Linked DNA regions of Homo sapiens. The protein of the gene in region 1 purifies or fractionates together with the protein of each later gene. This does not show direct contact. Each region holds a gene or a part of one and is shown in the gene's direction. Other genes may lie near its edges. The genes, in order: BTN3A2 and TMEM245.

Region 1 (3,812 bases):
GATCCATGTGAAAGGTTTCTGTTTTTCGTTGTGTGTGTGTCTTTTTTTTTTTTAGACAAAGTCTCACTCTATTGCCCAGGCTTGAGTGCAGTGGTGCAATCTCAGCTCGCTGCAGCCTCTGCCTCCCAGGTTCAAGTGATCCTCCTGCCTCAATCTCCCAAGTAGCTGAGATTACAAGCATGTGCCACCACACCCAGCTAATTTTTGTATTTTTAGTAGAGACAAGGTTTTACCATGTTGGCCAGGCTGGTCTCAAACTCCTGACCTCAAGTGATCCACCCGCCTCAGCCTCCTAAAGTGCTGGGATTACAGGCGTGAGCCACTGCAACCGGCCTGTAAAAGGTTTCTTATAGCACTGATTACTATTGCACAAGGTTAGAAACTGTGCAGATGTTCACTGCCAGGGAACTTCCATACAAGGGAATACTGCACAGTTTGTAAAAGGAAAAAGAAGCAATTCTCTCTATACTAATATGGAAAGATCTCCAAGATACACTTTACACAGAAAAAGCAAGATGCAGAGGGACGTGTATAGAATGCTATTTTTAGTTTAAACAAGAGGAAAAATAAGAATATATTTTAATTTACTTTTTTTTAGTTCTCAATTGGGTTAGTTTACATTTTTAAACTTCAACAAGCAATTTTGTAACACTTACTGTACATCAGGCACTTTATAAGTATTAATTCAATTCTTCTAACCTCAGGAAATAGGTATTATCATTACCCTCATTTTACATTAGTAGATTAGGCCACTACAAACAGAGAGGTTATGTAAGTAGTCCAACATCACACTGCTAGTCACATGGGGGAGCCAGCATTGAAACCCATACCCTCTGACTCCACAGGTTATGTTCCTAAGCATCATATTAAGTGGACTAAGAAGTTAATACATGGAGGGAGGGAGGACAGGGTGAATGAGAGAGTTGCGTGACTTTATGTGTATGTAGTTTTGAACGATGTAAATGTGTTACCTATTGAAAAAATATTTAGAAAAAATGTGTATGACTTTGCTCAAGTTACTTTCCATGTGAGAGGCAGACATCTCAAGATAAGTAATAGTAGTAGCTTGTAGTGAGGGTTTACCAAAGTCTTATCTATAGTCCTCTGAGACTTTAGGGAGAGAATCCTTATTTAACCTCATGAGATAGATTCCCCACCCCCGACCTGAGCTGAGCAGCTAAAGCTTGGGGTGCTGCAGGCTGGGGAGGCTGAGCGCACCAGCGCCCATGACCTACAGCTCTCCCCTTCGCAGACCCCTTCTTCAGGAGCGCCCAGCCCTGGATCGCAGCCCTGGCAGGGACCCTGCCTATCTTGCTGCTGCTTCTCGCCGGAGCCAGTTACTTCTTGTGGAGACAACAGAAGGAAATAACTGCTCTGTCCAGTGAGATAGAAAGTGAGCAAGAGATGAAAGAAATGGGATATGCTGCAACAGAGCGGGAAATAAGCCTAAGAGGTATCCAACGCAAGCAGAGAATCTAAGCTCTTGGCTTGCATGCCCCAGCCTGAAAACCTCACCTCTCTCCCCTACCCTGGCACTGCATCATGTTTAAGGTTTATTTCCCGAAACACCAACCTCACCCATAACAGTTCATCTTTTTTTTTTTTTTTTTTTTTTTTTGGTTATTTTCCAGAGAGCCTCCAGGAGGAACTCAGTAAGTTACCATTCCCCCAGAGATCCAGACATGTCTTCCTATCCTCGCTTTGAGCACCTTGATGACTCTTCCCTGTTCATTCCATTGCAGAGAGGAAAAAAATCCAGTACTTGACTCGTGAGTGGCTTTGACATTTTCTCTGAATTCAAATCTGTTACTCTCTCTCTGCTTCATTATTTTCCAGCCCATAAGTCATAGCCCAGGGTTGAAAAGTGGTCTTGGATCCCTTTACCCAGAAAAAGAAAACAAGTGTGGCTCTTTGGAGAAACCACCCAGTGCTTTTTCTCTCTAGAAAAAAAAAAAAAAAAAAAAGAGGTCTTCAATCTCTTTGTACTAGGGGCTACAGACCCTTAAGCTCTAAAAAGCACTGAGGAATATCCAGGGGTACACTTCAAAAGGAAGAGGGAAGAGAAGGATGAGGTGCATTTTCTATGGCAGGAAACTTACTTGTTGTTTCCCATAATCTAGAGGCTGTTGAAAGGAAAACAAGAATGGAAGATTTAAGAAATAAGAAAATCAGAAAAGAGAGAGGGAGGGAGAAAAGTGTGTCTAATAAAGAGGAGTAGCTACAGTGGCTCAGTTGGTACAGATAGATCATAACTGCTTTCAAAAACTAGTCCCTGAAATTGCTCATTAAATTTCCCAAATTCTTTTTAGAGCAAGGTACGAAATGATACAGATTGAGAAGGATGAATCTTGTACTCCTAGGCATACACATATAGACATGGTGACACCTATGCCCAGGTACACATTCAAAACAGATGAGCTGGACCCCATTGGGAAGGAACTCTCACAGTGCCTGCCCTGCCACTAGCGTTCAACCGATGTTCCCAGACTTGATATTAAGAAGAGGTGAAGAAAGAATTGTACCTGAAGATGGAGACCATGGGGAAGGGTGGGATGGTAAAAAAAAAAAAAAAAAAAAAAAAAAAAAAAAAAAAAAAGACTAGATGGATGCAAAAAGAAGGGGAAGGGGCCAACACAGAAAAGGCAGAGTTCTGGTGACACCTCTACCTTTCTTTCATTGTAGGTGGAGAGGAGTCTTCGTCCGATACCAATAAGTCAGCCTGATGCTCTGTAAGTTTGCTGGGTCACATGCCCTGAATATTTCAACTTTTTCTCCACTGTGACCCGTGGATGTTCTCAGCTGGATTAATTAGATCTAATCTAAAGACTCAATTTCTGTGTGGTGGGGGTTCACCTCCGCTTTTCTGGAGCCTCTGAGAAACTCCTGATCCTGCACACCCCCTTGTAAAGCCTGGCCATGCATCCTGCACCCCCCATGACACAGGGAGCCAAGCCTGACATTTTTGAGAAGGTGCCACCTCTGATCCATCAGAGCTGTAGAGGAGGGAAGCTGGACCCTGGAAGAGACTCTAAAGAAAAGGAGAGAAAACATGTAGTGAGAGGAGAATGGAGTGGGAAAAGTACAAAAATACTGACCTTTTTCTTATCTGTGTCTCCTTCCTTTCAGAATGGAAAAATGGCCCTCTTCAAGCCTGGTGAGTAAATCACTGCATGTTCCCTGGACCAACAACCTGAGGGACTATATTCCTTTTTCCTTTTTTCTTCTCCAACTCTTGTGATTTGGAGCAGAAAAGTTCCCTTGACTTCCTTCGTGGGTAGGAAGACGCATAAAGGGTGGAGGTGAAGGGAAGGAGACACACACTGAGTAATACTGCAGGGAGAGTGAGGATGGAAATGCCAAGGAGAGGAGGTGATGCCTGCCCAAAGAACTTTGTCCTTCCCAGGCTTCTCATGCCACCTACTGCCTGTATCTCCTCAAAGGATTTAATGCTTCCAAGCTTTGGCCTCCACATTTTTAGATGATGATTGCAATCTGTTTTTCATGGGGGTTGAGGTGAAGACTGAAGGAATAATGAACATGCTTGGCAGAAACCTAGCAAGAAATAGATGGTGAGCTCAAACTGGGTAGTTGGACAAGGTTTCCAGAAAGAAGGGTTAAGGGAAAGCAACAAGGAAAAGTGCAGTGCCCCCATGGTTCCCAACAGTGGGGAGCTGTCTCCACCCCTAGCCTGGGAGGGCTAAAAAGGGGAGGCAATTACTGGAACCCAGAGAAAGAGGTAGCTTAACGAGGGAGCTTCCTGAGAAGAGTCCTCGGGCCTTGTTAGAGCACCACCAGCTGCTGCTGGCAGGGAG
Region 2 (4,406 bases), on another chromosome or scaffold:
TTCTGCTCCACAATTGAAGCAGTAGCCTTAGGGAGGAAACCTGTACTTCTTCCCCTAAGCTAGCTTTGGAATACATCACTTTCTTTATACCAGACCTTGCTCTTGTTAATTGGAATCTGCAAGTGGTGAGCGACTAAACCTGCGTTTTGGTTATAAAACTCCAAAGGCCATCTGAAATACTGAGACCTAAAACTTACAATCGAGATGGATAGGGAATTACTTTTTCCTTTACTTCCTTTACTAAATCCCTTTGTCTCCAAATCTATCAAGCAATAGTTTCTTTATCTGCAAACTGTGGATTATGTTACCTGTCTTGTCTGCTTTAGAAGGGAAACAAAAATTATGTAGAAATTAATAGGAATACTATTGAAACAGGAAAGGGACAACTTGCAAGGTTTGAAGCAATCACATGTTGAGTACTCAGTCAAGGCTTTCTTTTTTTTTTTAAATCAAAATGTTGATTGGGATATTTTATGGGTAGCAGGCTTGGATCCCAGCACTTTTCCAATAGGGGAACAGAAGCACCTTGTACCGCCCCAGAGTTTCCCTTCCCCCACACAATAACCCTAAAGCAAAAGCTATTATTATTATCATCGCCATGTGACAGAGGAAAACTTGAGATTGGGGGCTTAACTGACATTACATCAAGTCTCAAAAAGAAACAGTGGCAGTTTGAGACTTTGATCTACGACTCTTTTAAGAGTTTAGATTGCGTCCACAGCGAAACCTGCACAAACAGTTGTCAACAGCGGCTGCAAATTACAGGCTTATGAGGAACGTTTGAAAAATGCCAAGAGTTCTTTCCTCAGGCCAAATACTATGGTAGATAAAAGTATAGCCTTTGGAGCCAGAATCCCTGAGTTTGAATCTTGCCTGTGCCACTTGGTAGCTGTGTGACTCTGGCTGCGTACTTAACGGCTCTGTCTCAGTTTTTCTGTTGGTAAAATGAGGATAATAACACCTTCTTTGTAGGGTTGTTCTAAGGATTAAATGAGTTAATAGGAGTGAGCCACTTAGAATAGGGCCTGTTATATGGTAATCTCTATTTAAAATCCTGTCAGATACACCAAAGAAAACACTTTAAAAATATCTGTTAAATAAATCAGTAAAACAGAATCGGGGCATTGGTTCTTTAAAAGTACTCCCCCACGGTATTCTAGTATGCAGCTTGGGTTTTAATATCTGAATGTGGCGCCTTTTGGGATCTCGCCTCGCGAGAAATTGACATTAACGAATGAGTGAAAGGAGCTTCCCCCCCCCCCCCCCTCCAGGAAGATATAGACCCTGCAAACTTGTTAGCAGGACCTTGCGGACACCAAGGAGGCGGAGGCGTTTTCCCCATTTCCCCTTCGGGAGTTGTAGTTTCCTGCAAGCGCTTGGTGGGTCTGTAAACCAGCGGGGAACTACAACTCCCACAATCTCGCGCGCCTCCCGCCCTGCCTCCCGCCCGCGTTTCTAGCCCGACTCCCATTACCGCCCCTCGGGGGCGGCTGTGGCGGAGGAACGATGGCCGACGGCGGCGGCCCTAAGGACGCGCCAAGCCTGCGGAGCTCTCCCGGGCCGGCGCCGCGGGTCCCGCGCGCGGTCGGGCCGAGTGGCGGTGGCGGGGAGACCCCGCGGACCGCGGCGCTGGCGCTGCGCTTCGACAAGCCCATTAAGCAGGCCTTCTACAACACCGGGGCCGTGCTGTTCGTGTGCCTGTGCTGCGGCGCCGCGGTGCTGGTCTACTTCATCCTGGAGGCCTTCCTGCGGCCGCTGCTCTGGGCCGTGCTATGCGGCACTTTTCTGCACCCCTTCAAGAGCTCGCTGACGCGCCTGGGCCGCCACTGGCTGCAGCGCCTGCACCGCGCGCACACGCCCATCGTCCTGGCCGCGCTGCTCCTGCCGCTCTGCTTCGTCGACTACGGCGTCGAGGCCCTGGGCGAGCAGGCGCTGCGCCGCCGCCGCCTGCTCCTGCTGCTCGGCGCCGGCGGCCCGCTCCTGTACGGCCTCTACTGCCTCGGCAGCTACTTGGGCGTGCAGGTGCTGCTGGTGCACGCTGCCACGCTCATCTGCCGCGGGCTGGACTACTTCAGCAGCCTGTGGGTGAGTGAGCGGCAGTCCGCCCCCGTCCCCCGCCCGTGGTCCCGGCGCTCTGGGGTGCAATCCTGCAGCTGTTCCTCCCGGTGCAGGGGCGACGAGGGGCCACACCTGTGCTGCAGTGACCGTCCGTCTCCGCTTTCCTTCTCACACCTCAGGAATTTGGCGGACATTCTTCCAAAAAGGGGGCGGGCGTGATTTGAAACAGCCTCCCTGCTTTTCGCCTTGTTTCAATCCTAATAGGCCCTCTTAGGGGGACAGTGCCCTGGATTGAGAATCGTTATTTCGCTTTGCAGAGAGAGGCCTCAGAGCATGGCAGTGGGGCTTGGTTTTACTTCTGGTTGGAGAGGGCGGGGGTGCTTCGGCCACCCTCAGTTCTGCGCATCTGAATGTCAGAGCTGGAAGGGACCTTAGAGATTCTAGGCCAACTTGCCATCCTGCAGATAGGAAAGGTGACCTCTTACCAGGCTAGGGCTACTTAGGGACAAAGAGGGGTTTGGGTGTCTTAGATTTCTTACAAGTCCTAAAACAAAGCTTGCTTCACTGGCTGGTGCTGCCTCTCAGTTCAGGTGATTCCTGTATAATTTGTGCAAGGCACTGGGTGCTGAGCTGCCTGTGCTTCTTCCTCTCCACGCTTTACTTTTAGGTAACTGCTTTTGTTGTGCAGGGACTGGTGTACCACAGCACACCTCCTCCCGCCTGGAGTAAAGCAGCTGACCGCGTGAAGGGGAGAGACGTAGATTTGTGATGCTTGGATTAACCTGAGCTTACTCTTACAAAACCAGGGAGCTTTAGAATTGGAAAGATTTCAAAGGTAATCTAGTGACACAATTCCTAACTCAGACTATATTGTGGACTAGTTAATTATCCACATATTTAACTGGAGACTGTTAAAAACAAGTGGAGATTTAGTGCGTAAGAATGCCAATTGATTCATAAACAGTACCATTTACAAATTGATTCACTTCTTTTGTCAGTGAAATAAAGTTCAGTGTACCTTGACGTCATTAAGTTGGAAAATATTAATTCCCCTTATCTGTCTAGCGGTGTTTTGGCTTGCCTGAGGTTATTGGCAGAGTGATGAATGACCCAAAACACCCTTCTTCTCTTGTTCCCTCAATACCACCTCTTGGTTCATGTTTAAAGTTGATCGAGCATATGTTAGGTGTTGGGCTTTGTGAGAGGTTTAAAAAAGGACTAAGATACAGGTCCCGTCTTCACGGTACATATAATCCTATATGAACATATTCTAATGGAGATGACAGACATACAGATAAATGTTCATGACTCATCCGTTGTGGGCCACAGGCCCAGAGAATGTGATTGGTCCAAAGTCACACAGCTCATGAGCAAATCTGTGGTTCACTTTTATGGAGGCCCAGTTCAGCGCTCTTTATCCTTTATCTTGCAGTTTCACAATTCAGTTAAGTGGATCGAATGCTTCTTAGCTAGAAGGCAGAACACTATGTTCTAAGAAAAATAAGCTTGGTTATTTTCCTGAAGAAATTCAGTTTTGTCAAAGACACATTTATAGATTCTGCTAACATTTTTGACTGTTGATACTGCTCAAGGAGCATATCCATCAAACTATAGGAAAGTAGAAAAGAAAGGCCTGCCACATGTAAATAGTATATTTTCATGCTAGAGTAAGAAGTTGAATACCTAAGTAATTTGGCATGATTATGAGGCATTTCTACCAGTCTCTCTCAGATACTCAGTGGAAAGAGTTGAGCACTTGTAAAGAAACATCCACAGCTCGGCGTATACCTTTGAGTATCTTTTTACTGAAGATAAACCCTCATCTTTGTATTTCATTTGTGGGTTGTGGATGAGTGGAAGAGAAGTAGGGGCCAACACTGATTAGACCTGGGAGTGGGAGAAAGAAGGTCAAACTAATTAATGATTTTTTAAAAGCTTGAAATTGGCCGGGCGCGGTGGCTCACGCCTGTAATCCCAGCACTTTGGGAGGTCGAGGCGGGTGGATCACCTGAGGTTAGGAGTTCAAGACCAGCCTGGCCAACATGGTGAAACCCCGTCTCTACCAAAAATACAAAAAAAAAAAAATTAGCTGGGTGTGGTGGTGGGCACCTGTAATCCCAACTATTTGGGAGGCTGAGGCAGAAGAATCACTTGAACCCGGGAGGCAGAGGTTGGAGTGAGCCAAGATTGCACCACTGCACTCCATTCTGGGTGACAAGCGTGAAATTCCGTCTCAAAAAAAAACCAAAAAAACCTTGAAATTCAGCTGTTTGGCTCAAGTGTTGGGAGCAAGGAAAAAGAGAGAGGGTTAAAAAAAAACAAACTCAACATAAAAGTATGAGTTAAGT

What was found.
Region 2: the proteins of BTN3A2 (region 1) and TMEM245 purify together in Homo sapiens (affinity purification with mass spectrometry; one large-scale study listed by BioGRID and IntAct). This does not show direct contact.

The regions. Positions count from the first base shown.
Region 1 is NC_000006.12:26,371,645-26,375,456, forward strand, and holds part of BTN3A2 (butyrophilin subfamily 3 member A2 isoform a precursor), read left to right. Parts: intron 1-1,237; coding exon of another isoform or gene 1,238-1,252; coding exon 1,253-1,453; intron 1,454-1,631; coding exon 1,632-1,652; intron 1,653-1,742; coding exon 1,743-1,769; intron 1,770-2,682; coding exon 2,683-2,723; 3' UTR 2,724-2,729; intron 2,730-3,126; 3' UTR 3,127-3,154; intron 3,155-3,812. UniProt on the Homo sapiens protein: Plays a role in T-cell responses in the adaptive immune response. Inhibits the release of IFNG from activated T-cells.
Region 2 is NC_000009.12:109,117,014-109,121,419, reverse strand, and holds the start of TMEM245 (transmembrane protein 245), read left to right. Parts: upstream 1-1,472; 5' UTR 1,473-1,506; coding exon 1,507-2,085; intron 2,086-4,406.